Linked DNA regions of Homo sapiens: region 1 is linked to region 2. The links come from fine-mapping of genetic effects on gene expression. A gene starts in region 2. The other region holds a variant in brackets. All regions are shown on one strand. Distances are from middle to middle.

Region 1 (8,326 bases), 34 kb after region 2:
GGCTCATGCCTGTAATCCCAGCACTTTGGGAGGCCAAGGCAGGCAGATCACTTGAGGCCAGGAGTTCAAGACCAGCCCAGGCAACATGGTGACCCCATCTCTACCAAAAAAAAAAAAAAAATTCAAAAATTAGCCGGGTGTGGTGGCTCACTCCTGTAGTCCCAGCTGTACGTGGGAGGCTGAGGCATGAGAATTGCTTGAGCCTGGGAGGCAGAGGTTGCAGTGAGCAGAGATTGTGCCACCGCGCTCCAGTCTGAGCGACAGAGTGAGACTCTGTCTCAAAAAAAAAAGAAGAAGAAGGATGTGTCCAGCAGGCTGGGCACAGTGGCTCACGCCTATAATCCCAACACTTTGGGAGGCCGAGGCGGGGGGGATCACCTGAGGTCAGGAGTTCGAGGCCAGCCTGACCAACATGGAGAAACCCTGTCTCTACTAAAAACACGAAAATTAGCCAGGCGCGGTGGCACATGCCTGTAATCCCAGCTACTCGGGAGGCTGAGGCAGGAGAATCGCTTGAACCCGGGAGGCGGAGGTTGCGGTGAGCCGAGATCACGCCATTGCCCTGTAGCCTGGGTGACAAGAGCGAAACTCCGCCTCAAAAGAAAAAAAAAAAAGTGTGTCTAGTAAAGGGAGCTAGGGCATTATCACAACACCCAAGCATGGGACTCCACCCTTAACCAACATCAGGGTTTCCCTGGCTGCTAGTTTCCTGTGTGCTTGGGGCAGCTTATAGCCCAGGTTTATAGCCCAGCCTGCAGCCCCAAATTGCTCTGGTCTTCCCAGCACCCCAGTGAGCAGGAGAAAAACACAGAAACTAACATTTAGTGAGGACTGCCATGGGCCAGGCACCTTGCAATCTGCTCTACACGCACTGCCTCTTAATCCTCAAAAGGAACCACTGGGGTAGATGATATCAGCTATTTCCTCGTAAGCCACCTAAAGTTGGCTGGGTGAGGTGGCTTAAACCTGTAATCCCAGCACTTTGGGAGGCCAATGCAAGAGGATCACTTGAGGCCAGGAGCTCAAGACAAGCCTAGGCAACATAGCAAAATCCCGTCTCCACTAAAATTTAAAAAATTAGCCAGGCATAATGGCATATGCCTATAGTCCCAGCTATGCAGGAGGCTGAGACAGAAGTATTGCTTGAGCCTAGAAGGTCAAGGCTGCAGTGAGCCATGATGCCACCATCGCATTCCAGCCTGGGCAACAGAGCAAAACCCTGTCTCAAAAAAAAAAAAAAAATGCTTAGTACTATCAAGTCTCCACAGCTAGTATCAGAGTTCATATCTTACCTGTCTCTGCTCATGCCTCTAAACTGCATTCTTCCAGCCCTGCTGGAGAAAACCAGGCTGACACCAAAGTACAGACTTTCAAGGGCCCTGGCGAGGCTCCTTCACACCAAAGCAAATTTCCCACCTGCAGTTACACCAGAGTCTTTCCGTTCCTTTAGCTAAGACTTTGGTTCCTGCAAACTTGTAAATCCCCTGGGACAGGCAACACTTTAAATGCTCATCAAGCATTTGTGCTTTAGTGGGAGTGATTTTTGAATTTTTTTCTTACGAGTAGCTTTTGCTGGATCCTAAGGTAAGTAATGATAAAAATAGTGGGTTCCTGGATGGAGAAAGAGTCTGTTGAAAAGAGGAAGAAAGATTGTAGGATGGGAGGCGGGGGCACCAATGGTGGGTTTTACTTCACAGTTTTGTGGAAGGTTCTAGATGCTAGGATCATAAAGTAAGGAAAAGATCATTTTTTTCCTGCTTCTGGATTTTACAGTTGAAATGAGGAAGGTAAGCTATCTCCATGCAGTGAGTCTGTTGTCATGCCCAGAGAGCCAGAGCTAAGCAGACTCTGTGTTCAACTCTCTCTGGCCTCATTCCTGCTGTCCAAAAGGCCCATCATAGTCAGCAAGTAAATTTGTATCTGGCAGTTGTTTATCTCCACCACCAGGGCCCATGTCTGTTTGAATCACCAGGGTATCCCCAGAACCTGGCAGAATGCATCGCACTTAATAGGTGCTCATACATGTTCGTAGGAATGAATGTTGTTTAAATTTGAAACAAAAAGACCTGAACCAGGACTCTGGATTCTAGCCTTGCATTGCCACCAGAATGTCCTGCATCCTTAGGGAAGTCACTCCTGTCTCTGGGCTTCGGGCTCCTCATTTGTAGCATAAATGCTGTTTTGTCATTCCAGGGCTATGTTGAATTAATCTAAATCCAAACGTGGAGTGCTAAGGTTAAGGGGCTTAGAATTCTCTCATCAGGTCAGCGTTGCTGGAAGACAGTGGTAGGAATAGCGTGGCTTTGACAGTTTCTGCAGATGTGTACTCCCTGACCCTCAGAGCAGAAGTCAGGATCTAGGGCTCTTGGGGACAGGATTCCCAGGGAGCAGCCAGGAAGACTTCTTTCTTGGGTCAGCAAATGCCTTCCAGGAGAATGATGGTTACGAACACAGGCTGTGGAGCCAGGCTGCCTGGGTTCCATTCCCACTGTGCTCAACTCTACCCCTCACCAATGGGGTGACCTTGGCCAGGGTACGTAACCTGGTTCCCGGTGACCTGCCTTGGAGATGAGTGTAGAGAACTGCATTCTTGTAAAGCACACAGTGAGGGCTCTGTGAATGTGAGTTAGCGGTTTTGACTTCTCAGAGCACGAAGCCCGAAGCTGGCACCTGACGGCTGCAGCTCTGGCCAGGGAGGGCAGGCCTCTAGCTTAGTCTCCTTTGCCTCTCGATGTCATTTACTTCCCATTGCATGCCCATAAGAGACCAATCATGAGGCTCCGTTTTACAGATAGTGAAGTCAAGGCACCAGAAGAAAGTACTAGACTTCTTAACTTCATCTTCCGCAACAAGTGCAGCCCCGGGTTCAGGACTCACCCATTTGGTTTCAGTGTTGCTGGCTCTCAAGAGAGTTGATACCCGGTCGGGAATGGAGAGAGCCTGACCTGAGTCAGTAGTCACAGTGTCTGTGTTTGATGCATCCCAATCACAAAGCACAGGTGCACGATTGTTCCTGACCCACCCTGAGCCCAGCAGGGGCAGGTGGCCCTGAGTGGAGGGCCGCGTAGGAGGGGAGGTGCCCTGCATGGACCTGGAAACTAGGAAAAGGCAGAGACAGACCCCCAATTCCAGACCCGCCCTCTCCTCTGCACTCTGCTGCCTTCCTGGATGGGGTCCAGTCACGTTCTGAGCACCCTGACTGCCTCCAGCCTGGGGTGAGGAGGGCATGCAGCGAGTGCCTTGCTCCCAGCTGGGAAGAGCAGAGCCACAGTCCGCTGGCACCTGCCTGGCTGGACCCTCTGGGAGGGGAGCCTTCCTCCGTAATTCAAACACTTAATTAACTTGGGATCTCAGAAATACCGTGTCAGGAGCGATCTGTCGGTGCTTGTGTGAACTGGACCATGTTGTTTTCTGCGGACTGGGGCAGGGTGTGGAGAGAGTTTCAGGAGGCTGGGAGGTTTTTTCCACCGTGTTGTCATTTCTCCGATAATTGAGTTATCTCTCTCGTTTCAGGTGGAGAGAGACTTTGAAAGGGAGTATGGAAAACTTCAGCAGTGAGTGTCAACCCCAGAAAGATGAGGTGGGAGGCAGGGAGGGACAAGGGCCCCCTGCCAGGTCTCACCTGTCTGCCCCGTGCCCTGCCCCGTGAGCACCCTGGAAGCTGAGGGCAGCTCAGGTCACCAGGCTGCTGGAACTGTTCCCTGGCAATGGCCATGTGAGAGTCATTCACTCATAGCCTTTGGGTGTAGTGGCACTTCAGTCAGCGGGAAAAGTCCCCGTGGAGAAGATCCCTTTCTCCTCCTCCTTGGCAGGCCCTCCAGAGCACCTGGGCTTCGCTCAGGTAGGGGGAAGGAAGGGGACCCCAAGCAGCCCGTCCCCTGCCTTGCAGGCTGGAAGAGCAGACCCGGAGGCTGCAGAAAGACATGAAGAAGAGCACCGACGCAGACCTGGGTAGGTGACTTTCCACCCGCACCACTCGCTTGAGCAGGTGGGGCAGAGGTGGGCACCCTCCTCTCTCAGCCCCCCAAGGGCTCTGAAGTTGCTGCGCTCAGAGGACGTGTACCCAGTGTCCTGAGAAGCAGCCTCAGGGCAGTCACTCCTCACCAGTCACATCCCACTTTGCACAGAGCTCGCACTGCCCCACTCTGGATGTGGGTGCTGGGGCAAGGCTCTCCTGGGACTCCAGTCAGGACAGTACAGCAGCTGGTGGAAGCTTCTGGTAGCAGATGCCTCCATTGCCTCAGAATCCTGGCCACCGGCTCAGGCTGTCCAGAGGGAAAGGGAAGCACATTCCTTCCCGCAGAAACGAGACTCCGTGGCCTGCTGGGACAGGCGCTCCAGTGGCAACAAGAATGGAAGCTGTCATGTGTTTAAACAGGAGGTTGGGTTAAAGTGTAAGGCCAGAAATACCCCAGATAATTCTATGATGACAAAGGGCACCGGGAGGTCCTTGGGAAGTGGGGGCCAGCAGGTGCTGGGAAACAGCCAGGGCCCTTGGGGAGGTTTCTTGGCTGGAGAGCTCTTGTTTGAAACAAGGAGGAACCAGGCCTGGGAGCCTAGAGACACAAGCAGGTCGGGAATAAGGGAGCATCCAGAGCCCTTGCTGCAGGCCATGTCCCAGGAAGGAGGCGACGAGCAGCCGGGAGAGATGGAGACCATTCCTTGAGGTTCTTTCTCCAAGGCCTTGACTTTCCCACCCCGGAGCAGCAAGCACTTGACCAAAGGTTGATCAATAGCTTCAGCACTCCCTGCGCAGCTCTGGACAGCTGACTTAGCTCTACCTCAGTTCCGTCACCCGAGAAGCACAGGTAACGCCAATCCGAGTGGCACAGGCTGTTGCTGAAGATGAAGTTGGATGAGCAACGTAAAGCACTGAGAACAGGGCCTGGCACGGGTCAGCTCTCGGGGTGTCCGCTCCTGTCATCACCGTCGTCATGGTCGGCAGCAAGCCTCCCTGACTGGGTGGACTCCTGCAGCTCCTTCCCTGGGTCCAGTGGGGAAGCCGTGTCTATATACCACACTGGGACGAGGACCTGAAAGAGACTTGGGTATGGCCAGGACTGCCCACTTCCTCTCACTCAGCAGATGCTGACCGAGAACCCACGTGCACCAGGCACTCTCAGCACTAGAGACTCAACAGCAAGACAAGATGGGAGCTTA[C/T]GTTCTAGGAGGAAGACCTGCAAGAGGTCCACAAGCGGATCGGTATATAATGACACGTCGTGGCGTGCAAGGTCAATAAAAATAAGGAGGTGGAGAGTGACAGGGTCAAGGGAGGCCTTCGTGGGGACGTGATCCCTGGGCAGAGTCCTGAAGGAATGAATAACCCACACAGGTAGAGCCAAGGGAAGAGGGCCTGAAACACAGTGGACAGCAAGCGCGGAGGCCCTAAGGTGGTGCACGCTGACCAGAGATGCAGGAGAGGCAGCAGGAGGGTGGAGAAGCCATCTTCAGTCCCCTCGGCCACTCCAGCTGCTGAATAATGCCATGTTATGGCTGTGAAGAAATTTCACCTCCCTGAGCTTTTCTGACCTTGAGATTGGCAGGGCACATGACACACCCATTTTATAAATGGGCATGTCCATTTGATAAAGGAGGAAGAGTTCAGCTCCTCTTCTCCAAGTCCAGGGCCTTGTCTCCACAGCGAAGCCTCCCCATGCCCCACTCATTCCTTTGCCCACCCCCGTGCCCGCCACCAAACTAGAAGGTGACCGAAACAGCCCCCACTCCGGAACCGTTGCCCATCCACTCTTTGCTTGGCTGTCTGTGAGCCTAGTGCAAATGGGGCGGCCTCACTGTCTCCTGACACCATTCAAAGGGCCACAGGGCAGTGGGCACCTACGGGTGGGACTTGAGGACCAGTGTGCTCCTACTTGGTACTGCAGTTACGAGGAAAACCCTTGAAATGTCCCAATAGAGGCAGTGATTTGAATTTGTTCCCATTTTATGCCAGCTCCTAAGCCTCAGCCAGTTACTGATGTGTAAACACACCTTTCCTACAAAGCACTGATCACAAAAGGAAAGCGTTCCTTCCCTGGGAGCCGCCGTCACCACCACCATGCCCGGGTGAGCGCTGACTGCCTGTGCAGGGACTGTGGCCGTCTTGGTCTGTGCCATGAATTTTCATGCCAGTGCTAATTCCTGGGCCGTGGGCTGGTCTGAACATGCACCTTGCTCCTGGCCTCTAGCGTTGCCAAACTATGTGTGTCACAAGCCAAGGACTGGATTTGGGAGTTTGTCTGCAGTTGTTTGTTTTGTAGTTATTTCAGGTCTGAGTTACTTGGGTCGCATTTTTCTTGATCGGTCCCCACTGCCTTTCCAGTTCGGGAGCTGCTGTGAGCCATTGCTTCCTTTCCTTCCTGCTTCTGCAGACAGCTGCATTGTCAGAGCATAAACGAAGCCAGGGTGTGCTGTGTTCACAGTGGCTTGCTACGGAACCAAGGAGGGCATCAGGGGTCCGTGACGCACCGTCCATGGCTGTGGAAAGCTTAGTTTCCCAGCAGAGAAACCAGAGTTGAATGGGTAACTGCAGAAGCCTAACACTACTGTCCTCAGTCAGGAATGGATGTGGGCAGAGACAGTGCCTCTGAAGAGCGGTGGTGGTGGTCATGGGGCCAAGGCGAGCCTGACAGCCACATCAGTCTCATGTACGGGGCATCAGTGTTGTAGGCGGGCTTGCTGTGCCGTGGGCCGCTGGGCCCCACCTCCAGCCTCCAACTAACTCATGAGCTGGGCGAGACCTGAAAATGTGTGTCCCTGGAGTTCCCAGGTGATGCTGAGGCCCACACTGTGAGCTCCACTGATCTGGACAGTTGAGGGGAATGGAGGGATGCTTTTCCTGAGCGTGGAATCTCCTGCGCTCCCCCAGCAAGGTGGAAAATCCCCAGTTATTCTAAAAAAGATGACCTTTCTTTCAGAAACTCATACTACTTTCAGAGTGCTCTGGTGAATCTTTGAATCTTACATTCCAGAGGCCGCATCAGGACTCCAGAGACCCGGGTGGGGTCCAAGACCCTCACTTTCTCTAAGGTTCAAAGATCACCAGCCTCCTGGTGTGGGCCAGGCTGACTGTGCCCCTCTCCCAGTCCCTGCAGGGAACAATGAGGGGTATGGGCTGGGGCAGGGACCACAGGTCCAGAGGGGCATGGAGACCTGCTGTTTATTTTTGTTGAGGGGGAACAGAGTCACACTGTGTCATCCAGGCTGGTCTCGAACTCCTGGGCTCAAGGGATCCTCCTGCTTCAGCTTCCCAAAGCACAGGGATTACAGGCATGAGCCACTACGCCCAGCCAAGACCATGGTGTTCTTGGTGTCATCTACCCCAGCTCTGCTCTGCTCACATGAAGCGGGGGCATCACTGGGCGGGGATTCCAGACCCAGTTCTGCCCAGGGCCGGCCACTGAGCCCACTCAGTTCCTTGACTTCCTGACAATGCAAGAGCTTTAGGAAAGAAAGGGGAAAATGCAGCTGGGCTGGGCGCAGTGGCTCACACCTGTAATCCCAGCACTTTGGCAGGCAAAGGCAGGTAGATCACCTGAGGTCAGGAGTTCGAGACCAGCCTGGCCAACATGGTGAAACCCCGTCTCTACTAAAAATACAAAAATTAGGTGGGTGTGATGGCAGGCACCTGTAATCCCAGCTACTTGAGAGGCTGAGGCAGGAGAATCACTTGAAGCCAGGAGGCGGAGGATGCAGTGAGCCGAGATGATGCCATTGCACTCCATCCAGCCTGGGTGACAAGAGCGAAACTCCGTCTGAAAAAAAAAAAAAAAAGGAAAGTGGAAAGACCGTGTCCTCGCTCCTCTGGCTTTTTGGGTTGTTTTCCTCAGATATTTTTTTAAGAAATAGCAGAAGATGTTTTTCAGAAACATTTCCAGCTTTATCCAGAATTTTATTATCTTTTTATTATGCTGTATGTGATCATTTCATAATCAAATCAAGTTATACGTAACGTTTGTTCCTAAATCTACAGAGTCACTCCACAGAATTTAAGAGGTGTTTTTCCCTCCGTTGCTTCAACATTTCTGGAAAGTTTACATTTCCAGCCTTCTCCCACAGTTTGCCCTTTTGCTGGTTGACTGTAGCACTCTCCCAGATTCCAGAAAAACCCCAGGAGGGTGCTCCGGGCTGGCTAGTCCGCTCAGCGCTGCTTTGCTGACTGGTGAAGGGGCCTGGCGGAGGCAGACCCTTCCCCGGGGAGCGCAGGGTCAGGGTTCAGGTTCATGCCATGGAGTGCTAGGCAAGGCCACATCTGTGATTAACTGGGAGGCAGACCTTATGTCATGGGTCCTAAGACACTTTTTCCACAGTTAATGTCTCTGAAATCAAA
Region 2 (8,326 bases):
GAGGGCCGCACTGGGTAGGAACATCAGCCAAAAGTACTAGATACTGCCCCATGGAGATGGAGAAGAAGGGAGAAGGCCAAAGGGTGGGGAGTGGGGCATGAGCACCAACCTCACCTGCCAGGAATGTCTCAACCCCAGGTAGAGCCATGAGGGCCCCAGCTCAAGGCAGCGGCCTTAGCCATACCACAGCCTGGCATGAGCTCCACATCACAGACATCCTGAGCCCCAGCTCAGGAGCTGTGTCTTCAGTGACTTCCTCTGACTTCCCCTTCTGGGTGTGCCCTGGAGCTACCTGGAGGAACAGACCATCCAGACCCAACTCAGAATCTCAGGAGCCTTGGACTCAGTGGTCCTACTGCCAGTTCTCTCCAGTGGGTACCTCCTATTGTGGGTCTGGGGCCATCTTAGAGCCTACCTGTCAGGGGGCAGCCCAGCCTGGACAGCCCTTGGCCTGATGCCCAGGGAACATATCAACCCGGGGGGATTGTTTTCCCTACTGGTGCACTCTCCCTCACTCATGTCTCCTCCTGGTTTCTGTGAGCTAATCAGAGAGAAGGAGGGGGAGGAGGGGGTGCTGCTTGCCTTCCCCGTTATCTGCAGCAATCCACGGTGACTAATGCTCCCAGTTGGTAAAAAGGCAGTGTAATCAAAACACTTTTTTTTTAGTCCTTAAAGTTAGTCATTCTCCCAGAGTGGAGGAAAAAAAAAAAAAAGCCCACAGCAGGCACCACGAGATGCAAGCTGAGAGGCCTGCACTGCTGGGTGGAACCAAAGCATTGGCTGTGGCAGCTCCTGCAGGTCAGAGGCCAGGACTCCTCCTCCTCTGGGTCCTTGGCTATCCTTCCTCCACACCCGCATTTGTTCTTGCTTTCCCCAGCATCTGGGCCTTCTGATCCCTGAAGGACGTCCATGCCATGTGAGGAGCTGCCCTTTCCTGTCACCCTGCCCGGTGCTGCCACCTGCTGGCCTGGCACTCTCCGTACTGGAGGAAGCATATAAAAGCTCCCAGGATGAGGCTGAGCTTGGCACCCTGGTCATAGGGTGGCCCTCCCTCCACCCACAACCTGGCCATTTAGTAGCGGTGCTTCTCCTGGTTCCATCTGTCTGCTGGCTTCTGACCTCACTGTGCCTTGACAGAACCAAAGGTTGTTGGAGGTCAAATGGCAAACTGTAGTGGCAAAAGCATAAGGATCAAAGCCAGGGTGCTCAGGTCAGAAACCCCACTTCACTGCTTCATGAAGCTATACTATTGCTTCATGGCTATACTTCAGCGCCATCATCTGTGAAATGATAATAATGGTAGTATCCACCTCACAGGGTTGAGGCAAGGATTAAATGTGAACTGCAGAGAATAGTGCCTGTCATGTCATGAGTGCTCAATTATTGTTAACTTATAATAAAAATAATAACAATAAAGTGGAATATAAACCATCTCATCGCTCTTTCTTGTCCAAGGCAGACATGACTAATCAATCATAGAACTTCCCCACTGATGGCAGATTCCCCAGAATCCTCAACACTGCATTCCAAGCAGACAATCAGAGTTGGCACATGGGATGATATCCATTCGCCCTCCCAGATCTAACCTGGACCTTTCCCATTGCAGTCAAGGAAAATGAGGCCCAGAGGAGGGACAAGACTCCCTCAAGCCACTTGGAGGCAGAGCCACGGGTCAGACAGGCGTTCCTGGTTCTGCTCGCTTCTTGCTGTCCTGGCTTCTGATGTGTCACTTCACCCTGACCTTTGAGCAGTCCGTGTGGGCCTCCCACCACTGGAAATCTCACCCTGATTTCCTCCTTCTTCTCCCACCCTTGCTCCTCCTCCTATGTCCTTGCCCCCCAAAGGCCCTGGGAAAGCTATTTTTCTGAGACGTCCTACTGAGCAGGTACAGAGTAGGGAGAAGTGGGGCAGTGAGGCCACAGAGAAACCTGAGGCCTGTGTCTGAATATCTGCAGGAGCCTCCCTGAGGAATCAAGACCTTTAGGGCTCCAAGAGAGCTGAGCCCACCAATTTGGCCCTATCACATTCAGTTTTTCAGCCTTAGCCCAGTGCTATAATGAAGTCCCTGACAGCCCAGGTCCAGGTTCTGGGAATGCTCACTCTTCACTAATAAGAGGTTGGCATGGTGAAAGACTCGGGGGCCAGCCCTAGACTTCTGTGTGGGAAAGGCTGGGAGAGACAGGACATGACAATCCCAGAGATGAGAGTCAGTGGGAAGCACCTGCTTACCAACTTCTGAGCAAAAACCTCCAAGGAAAAGTTGGGGGCTGATGGTGGAGCAGGTTCTGCTGCTGCTTTTCCCCTCGTAAACAGCTTTGTCCCAGAAGTAGACCTCTGCCACCTGAACAGTCTTTTACCTTCAGGCTCAGACTTCTGGGGAAGAATCAGTATTTACAAGGCTTGAAACCAGGAGTATCCACCTCTACCCAAAGCGCCTCCACTCTCAGCTTCTACTTAGAAACCCAATTTTCTCTTTTCCATTCCTTCCCTGCAGGGGCAGGATCAATCTGTATCATGCTGTCCCTTTGGTTATAAATAAGAAAGACATAGCTCCCGACCCTGCAGGCTGAGTTTTTCACAACAGTGGGAAGTGTTTGTGTGTCTCCATGTTCAGCTCCCCAGGGATCAATGCCTCATGGCACAGCAGGCTCATGGAGGAACACAGGATAGCAGGATGCCTGACTGTCCCTCCTCAGCCCAGTGCCCCTCTAGCTGAGCGAATGAGCCACAGGTAAGGAGACCAAGCAGGCACATTCCAGACAGACTCCTGGGAGGACACCATTCTTTTTAGTAACCTCAAAGATCCTGCTGGCTGCATTAAAGATTTCGAGGTGACCTGTCAACAGCACAGCCCCAGAAAAATTCATATTTAGCTTTATCCAAGATATCACCAGTTCCTCAGACCTGCCCACTTCTCTGGGCTTGCCCCTCTGTTCACCTGCCTTTCCCATTCTCCTATTTCCCTAGGGCCTCTAGAGTCAACAAGACAGCTGACTTGGAACCTTGCAATGTTGGATACTTTGGGATGTGATCTACCCACTCCATCTTATAGATGAGGGGACTAAGGCCACAAAGGGGATGTGACTTATCTGAGGTCAGTTATAGTGTCAAAGGTTGAACTGGAAATAGAGCCGCAGACTCCTCCAGACTTGTAGTCCAGAACTTATCCATTCTAGTCCTCTAGGATGTGTCTGCTGCCCTCCAGCCCTGAAACAGACTTCTACTAGGATATAGCAGTTACCTAGGCTAAAACGTTTGGAAATATTTATCCCTGTGGGGCATAACTGAGGGAGGCAGAACATGGGGAAGGGAGGAAGCAGGTGGGAAAACTATTCACAGGTGCTAACTGCCAGGAGGCTCCTAAACCCACAACAGCCCTTCCATCCGTCACACTCTCTGCAAAGCAGCAAGGACTCTCTCTTTCCCTTTACCCACACTCTCTGCCCAGGCTACCCTTTGGTGACTTCTGCTCTTCCTCTTTACTCTTCAAGGCTGCTCTTGTGCTCATTTTGGCCTGTTTCCTGAGGAACAACATGGTAATGAAGCTGATCTGCATGATGTGCTTGGGGATCCAACCTCCATTGGAAACGTCAATTGAGTCAAACTATGGACTCTCAAGAATGGAAACAGAAAACACAAATGAGAGACTGCATCCTGTGGCCCACCCTCCTACCTCTCCTGCTCAAGCCCTCTACTCCACCCTAGGAGGTCAAAACAAATCATACACTACTTCTGCTCTAGGTCATTGGTCATATTTTTCCCGCTAGGTCATTGATTAGCAACCCCCTAAGCAGTCCCTGAAACAATCCCGGTCCATCTGAGGAAGGAGAATTCCTAGAGAGAAGGTCACTGGGGGCCCAGCAGCACCTGCACGGGCCTCACTGCCTTCTTGTCTCTCTTCCAAGGCAGGGAGGTACTTAGCGGTGAGGAAACCAAGTCGGCCCAGAATCCCAGGCAACTTGTGAGCCACTAAGGCCCTGAATTCTGACTTTGGGAGACCCGAGGCAAGTCAGCTGCTTGCTTGGTCCTGTCTGTGTCTTAGCCATGGTAAGTTCCCTCTGCCTGGAGCCTCGTCACCCCTCATCTCAGATTCACCTGGCTAGCCCCGATTCTGCCTTCAGGGCTTGGCTTACACACTGGCTCCTCCTGGAAGCCTTCCCCAAAACCCCATGTGCTACTTCAGGGTCCCCTTCTAGGCTGCCACCACACCTCATTCTATCCTATCCTATAGCATGATTATAATTGCCTGCTTGTCTCTCCCTCCAGGAAAGTAGCTCTGGGAAGGAACAAGAGCAGGGCAGATACTTCTCTGAGATAGCTGTATCCTAAGGTTGGCTCGGTACCTGACACTAATATTAGTGCAACTAGTATTAGTTAAATGAAGGAATAGAACGAATGGGGCAATTTACATCATTTGAGTCCTGTAGAGGAGACCAAAGGGAAGGGCTGAAAGGCAGGGAACAACTCATACTCTGCGTCTTATTGTGTTGAATAACTCTAGGAAACATTCCAACCTGAAAAGCACCTATCTATTGATATTCAGAGCCCTGTGCCATCTTGGAAGGGAAACGTCCGTTTGTTTGTAACAGGTAATGCATGTGTGGTGTACAAACTGTAAAAGATAGGAAAGAGCATTCAGAGAATGTAAGTTTTCCACTTTCTCCATCCCAAATGGCTTCTTCTCCCACAGACAATTGCTGCCACTGTCTCTGGATTAGAAACCACTTGACAGAGGGGACAGCCCGGCTAAGGGCCCTGCATGGTCAGGTGAAGAGATCTTTAGGAGTCAGTGTTGAAGGCAGAAAACGCCCCCAGAGGTTCCCCTCATCCCCCGTTGCAGCCTGTGTGTCTAAGCGCTTGGCCAGAGCCAGAGAGTCGCCGGCAAGGGAAACTCCGCGGCGAGCACGCAGCAGCAGAAGGGTTAACGCGCCGGGCTCCGCCTCCCAACCGCCTCTTCCGGGCAGAGAGGCGGGCTTACGTCACTTCCTGGAGACTGGTTGAATCCGGAAGTGACCCTAGAGAAACGAGTTGTGGCTGAGGACCCCGGCGGCAGACGCAGGTTCGGGACCATGAGCTGGTGAGTGAGGCCCAGGCGGCGGGAGCTGCTGGACCCGCGGACCCGCGAGGCCCCTGGCCCTGTGTCAGTGCCGCGTCCCGGCTCCCTCCGGTCCCGCGCGACCCCTCCGCCCCAGAGCAAGGCCCGACAGCCCCTGCCCTAGGGTCGTTCCCTCGGTGCTTTCCGGAGTCGCAGTCTCTCAGCAGGACTCCCGGGGAGAGTGGCGGATGATCCTCTTAGCCTGGGACTCCGCGTCTGACCCGTTTTGCCGGACTCGCGTCCTCCTAGCTCCTTGAAGTGAGGGACTTCCTTGTTCCCTCCTTTTTTAAACACCCATTGAGGTGGAGTCAGTGTCGTCTTTCTCTCCTGTGGGCATCTCTGCCCCGCGCCAGTCCCTCCAGAGCTGTGGCCCTCGCTGTGGCAGCCTGGACCCAGTTCACTAATCAAAACCCACTCCCTTCTGGGTAACTATCCTCTTTGCACGACTTAGCAGGCTTCAAAAGACAAGGAAAACTTGCTTCTCTTTTTAAAGGGGCCAGAATTACACTCCGCACACACCCTTCCACTGTGGGATTGGACTGGTTTTAATCATTCCAGAGCTATTACTCACTGCCTGCCCTCTAAATAGGCATGGTTAAGTTTAAACTTATGGGAACTATCATGCCATGAGAAAAGAAGCCAGGGAGTCTTAGAGTAATAGAGTCACAATTCCAGTTGCTGCAGTATGATGTGATACTTGGGTCATAGTAGACACTTCATAATGGTGTATTTATTTTGTAAGACTCAGTTTGCCCAAAAGGCAATCCCCATTTGTTGCTCTCGATTATTTATGTTCACAGGAGAGAATTGTGACTTGCCTGCCTTCCTGGGGCTTTCTTAGAGGTTAGAGAATACTCATATGCAGCACCTTACCTTACCGTCAGGCCCAAGGACCTATATAGCCACAACCCTGGACCTCAGGGGATTCAACTATAGTGTGTGAATAAATTGAGCCCCAGAGATGTACAAGATTAATCAGCCCATGGACATAGGGAACATATTTGCCACTCTGTCCTCAGAGGCTAGTGTGTTTGTTTATGCAAAGCGCATGATAACCAGTTATGAATGAATTAAGATAACAGAATGTCCTTCAGGAAGGCTTTTGAAGCTTAATTTTGGCCATCAGTGGAGAACGCAAGCAGCTGATATCAGTCAGTGTCAGGGATACTTCTCTAAAGTAAAATGCGAACCATCTGTCCCCTCCCCCACCTGTTTCTTAGACCAAGATTGATGGACAAATGTCAGACAATCACCGCAAGCACGGGAGGAAAGCCTGAAGCAATGTCCTAATAAGCCCCGGCAGGAGCTTCTGCTTTTCCCTCCACCATTTGCTCCAGGAGGCCAATAAGGGGCTGGAGCCTTAAAAAGCTACCTTCCCTGTCTTGTTATAACCTAGTTAGTGGTGGGCAAAGCGGCAATTCTTCAGTTCCCTTTCCCAGAGGAATTACGTCCTTTCAGTGTCATTCTGGGCCCCCCAGTCTTGCAATATAGATATCCTTTTGGCTGCTGCGTCTTGAATCTTTGGAGTGTTCTTACCTAATTTTTCAAAGTGAAAATGAGGCAGTACAGATGCTTTATATTGCCTAGATTGGCCTTTACTGAACCAATCTTTCCTTCACAAGTTGGGAGAAGAGCACAGCAGAAACTAATAAAGGTAAATGATTCTCTGGGTGATCCGAAGCAGGTTGTTTCCACCTGTCTCACAGAAAGTTTCCCTTCTGAAAAAATAGTAGCCCATTCCTTAAAGGTTATCCTGTCAGGTTGGAGAGAATTGAGATTGACAACTGTCTAACAAGAGCTGAGATTTTCATCTAGTAGCTTTAATTTACCAGTACATGCACATCTTGGTATCTCCTTGGACTGAGAGTCACAGCCAGAAGGGTGGCTTTGTCCCTCAAAGCTGAGATTCCTTTCTCTTCCCCCTTAAAGGGCTTCTACGTCATCTCTTGCGTGGACCCTGACCCTGTCTCTCAAAGACGGGAACAGCACCGGCGCCTGGGCACACAATCACACTCAGTTCCTAGCTCAATGGCTGGCAAGGAGACCGGGGCTGGGTCCTTCTGATTCACTCCCTGAGTGGTTTTCCTGCCCCCAGAATGAATCCATCCATTCATGTGAGACTGGAATTCTCATTAGGGGAAGAGACCAGAGTGACGTAGAGCCATCATGGGAGGCTGATGCCCAAGGTCAAGTTCACCAAGTACATGGGCTGTGCCAAGCCATCATTAAATAAGGCACATGGCCCATGGTCCCCAGAGGGTAACCATTGTTCTGGGCTAGGCTGAGCTTTCAAAATGTCACAGTGAGAAATGTCCAATATTGATGCCCTTTGCACACTGTGGACTTTGCATGAAGAGTGAGAGGCCTTTGTTCTCTGCTTCCTCTGTGCAGGCAACCCGCCCACCCCCTGTTTGTTTAGTGGGTACCTGCTGCCTTCCTGCACCATCTACCCATCCACTCCCCATACACCCATCTGCCTTTCAGAAAAGTGACCCGGTGGTCTGTCCTACTAGGAAGAAGGCATTTGATATTCACATCTCAGATCACAGATTCACTTCTTGGCCTCAAGCCAAATGCTTCTCTCTCTCTCGCTCTCTTTTTCTCTCCCATTGTCCACCCCACCTCCCCCCGCCATTTGCCCCCCTCCCAACTTTCTCTCCTCTCCTCCCCACTCACCCCCTCCCTCCCTATTTCTGTCTCCCTCTTGTCTCCCTTTTCCCCTTCCTGTCTCTCTTCCCCATCTTCCAGTGTATACTCAGGTGGCTTTATTATGGTATGGAGAGAGGATTAAGTAGAATTAAGAATAGTGACCTCAATCTAAGCTGGCTCCAGGAATTGTAGCCTCCTGTTGAACCATACACCTTGATGATTTTAGGCTTAAACGAGGAGGAAAAGGGAGTACTGGAAGAAATCTCCCTATACCTAGGGGTCCAGTAGTTTGACAAAAAGGAAGGAAATTAGAGGCAGAGCAGGTAAGTGTGAGTAGGAGTTAGAGTGCTGCGTTCAGGTTCTGGCTCAGCCACTCACAGTGCGGCCTGGTCAAGCATTGAGCTGTTCTCTGTCTTAGTTTCTCCATCTGTAGCATGGAGTGGCCATTCCTGCTGACAATTTGCCACCTGAGCCTGCTGTGAAATGAGTGGAGTGATATTTTTCTGACTCTTCCGGGGTCTTCTACCTCTGTCTGCCCTTCACACTTTGGTGTTCCTCATGTTTGATCCTTTTTGTTTCTTT

The links.
Region 1: its variant is fine-mapped to the expression of BIN3 in lung (TOPMed, PIP above 0.99).

Annotation. Positions count from the first base shown.
Region 1 is chr8:22,632,150-22,640,475 of GRCh38, reverse strand. BIN3 (bridging integrator 3) reads left to right here. Exons shown (of 9, transcript NM_018688.6): 3 at 3,514-3,554; 4 at 3,890-3,951. BIN3-IT1 (BIN3 intronic transcript 1) reads left to right here. Exons shown (of 1, transcript NR_027715.1): 1 at 1-105. Among named protein-coding and RNA genes, the nearest start is that of BIN3-IT1, 5.9 kb to the left of the region's middle. RefSeq lists an enhancer at 8,274-8,326. The variant C/T (reference allele first, on the strand shown) is at 5,161.
Region 2 is chr8:22,665,795-22,674,120 of GRCh38, reverse strand. It overlaps BIN3 (bridging integrator 3), which reads left to right and starts at 5,000. Exons shown (of 9, transcript NM_018688.6): 1 at 5,000-5,077. The coding sequence starts at 5,070. RefSeq lists a cis regulatory region at 292-1,141, enhancers at 4,831-4,890, 4,648-5,277 and a silencer at 5,141-5,300.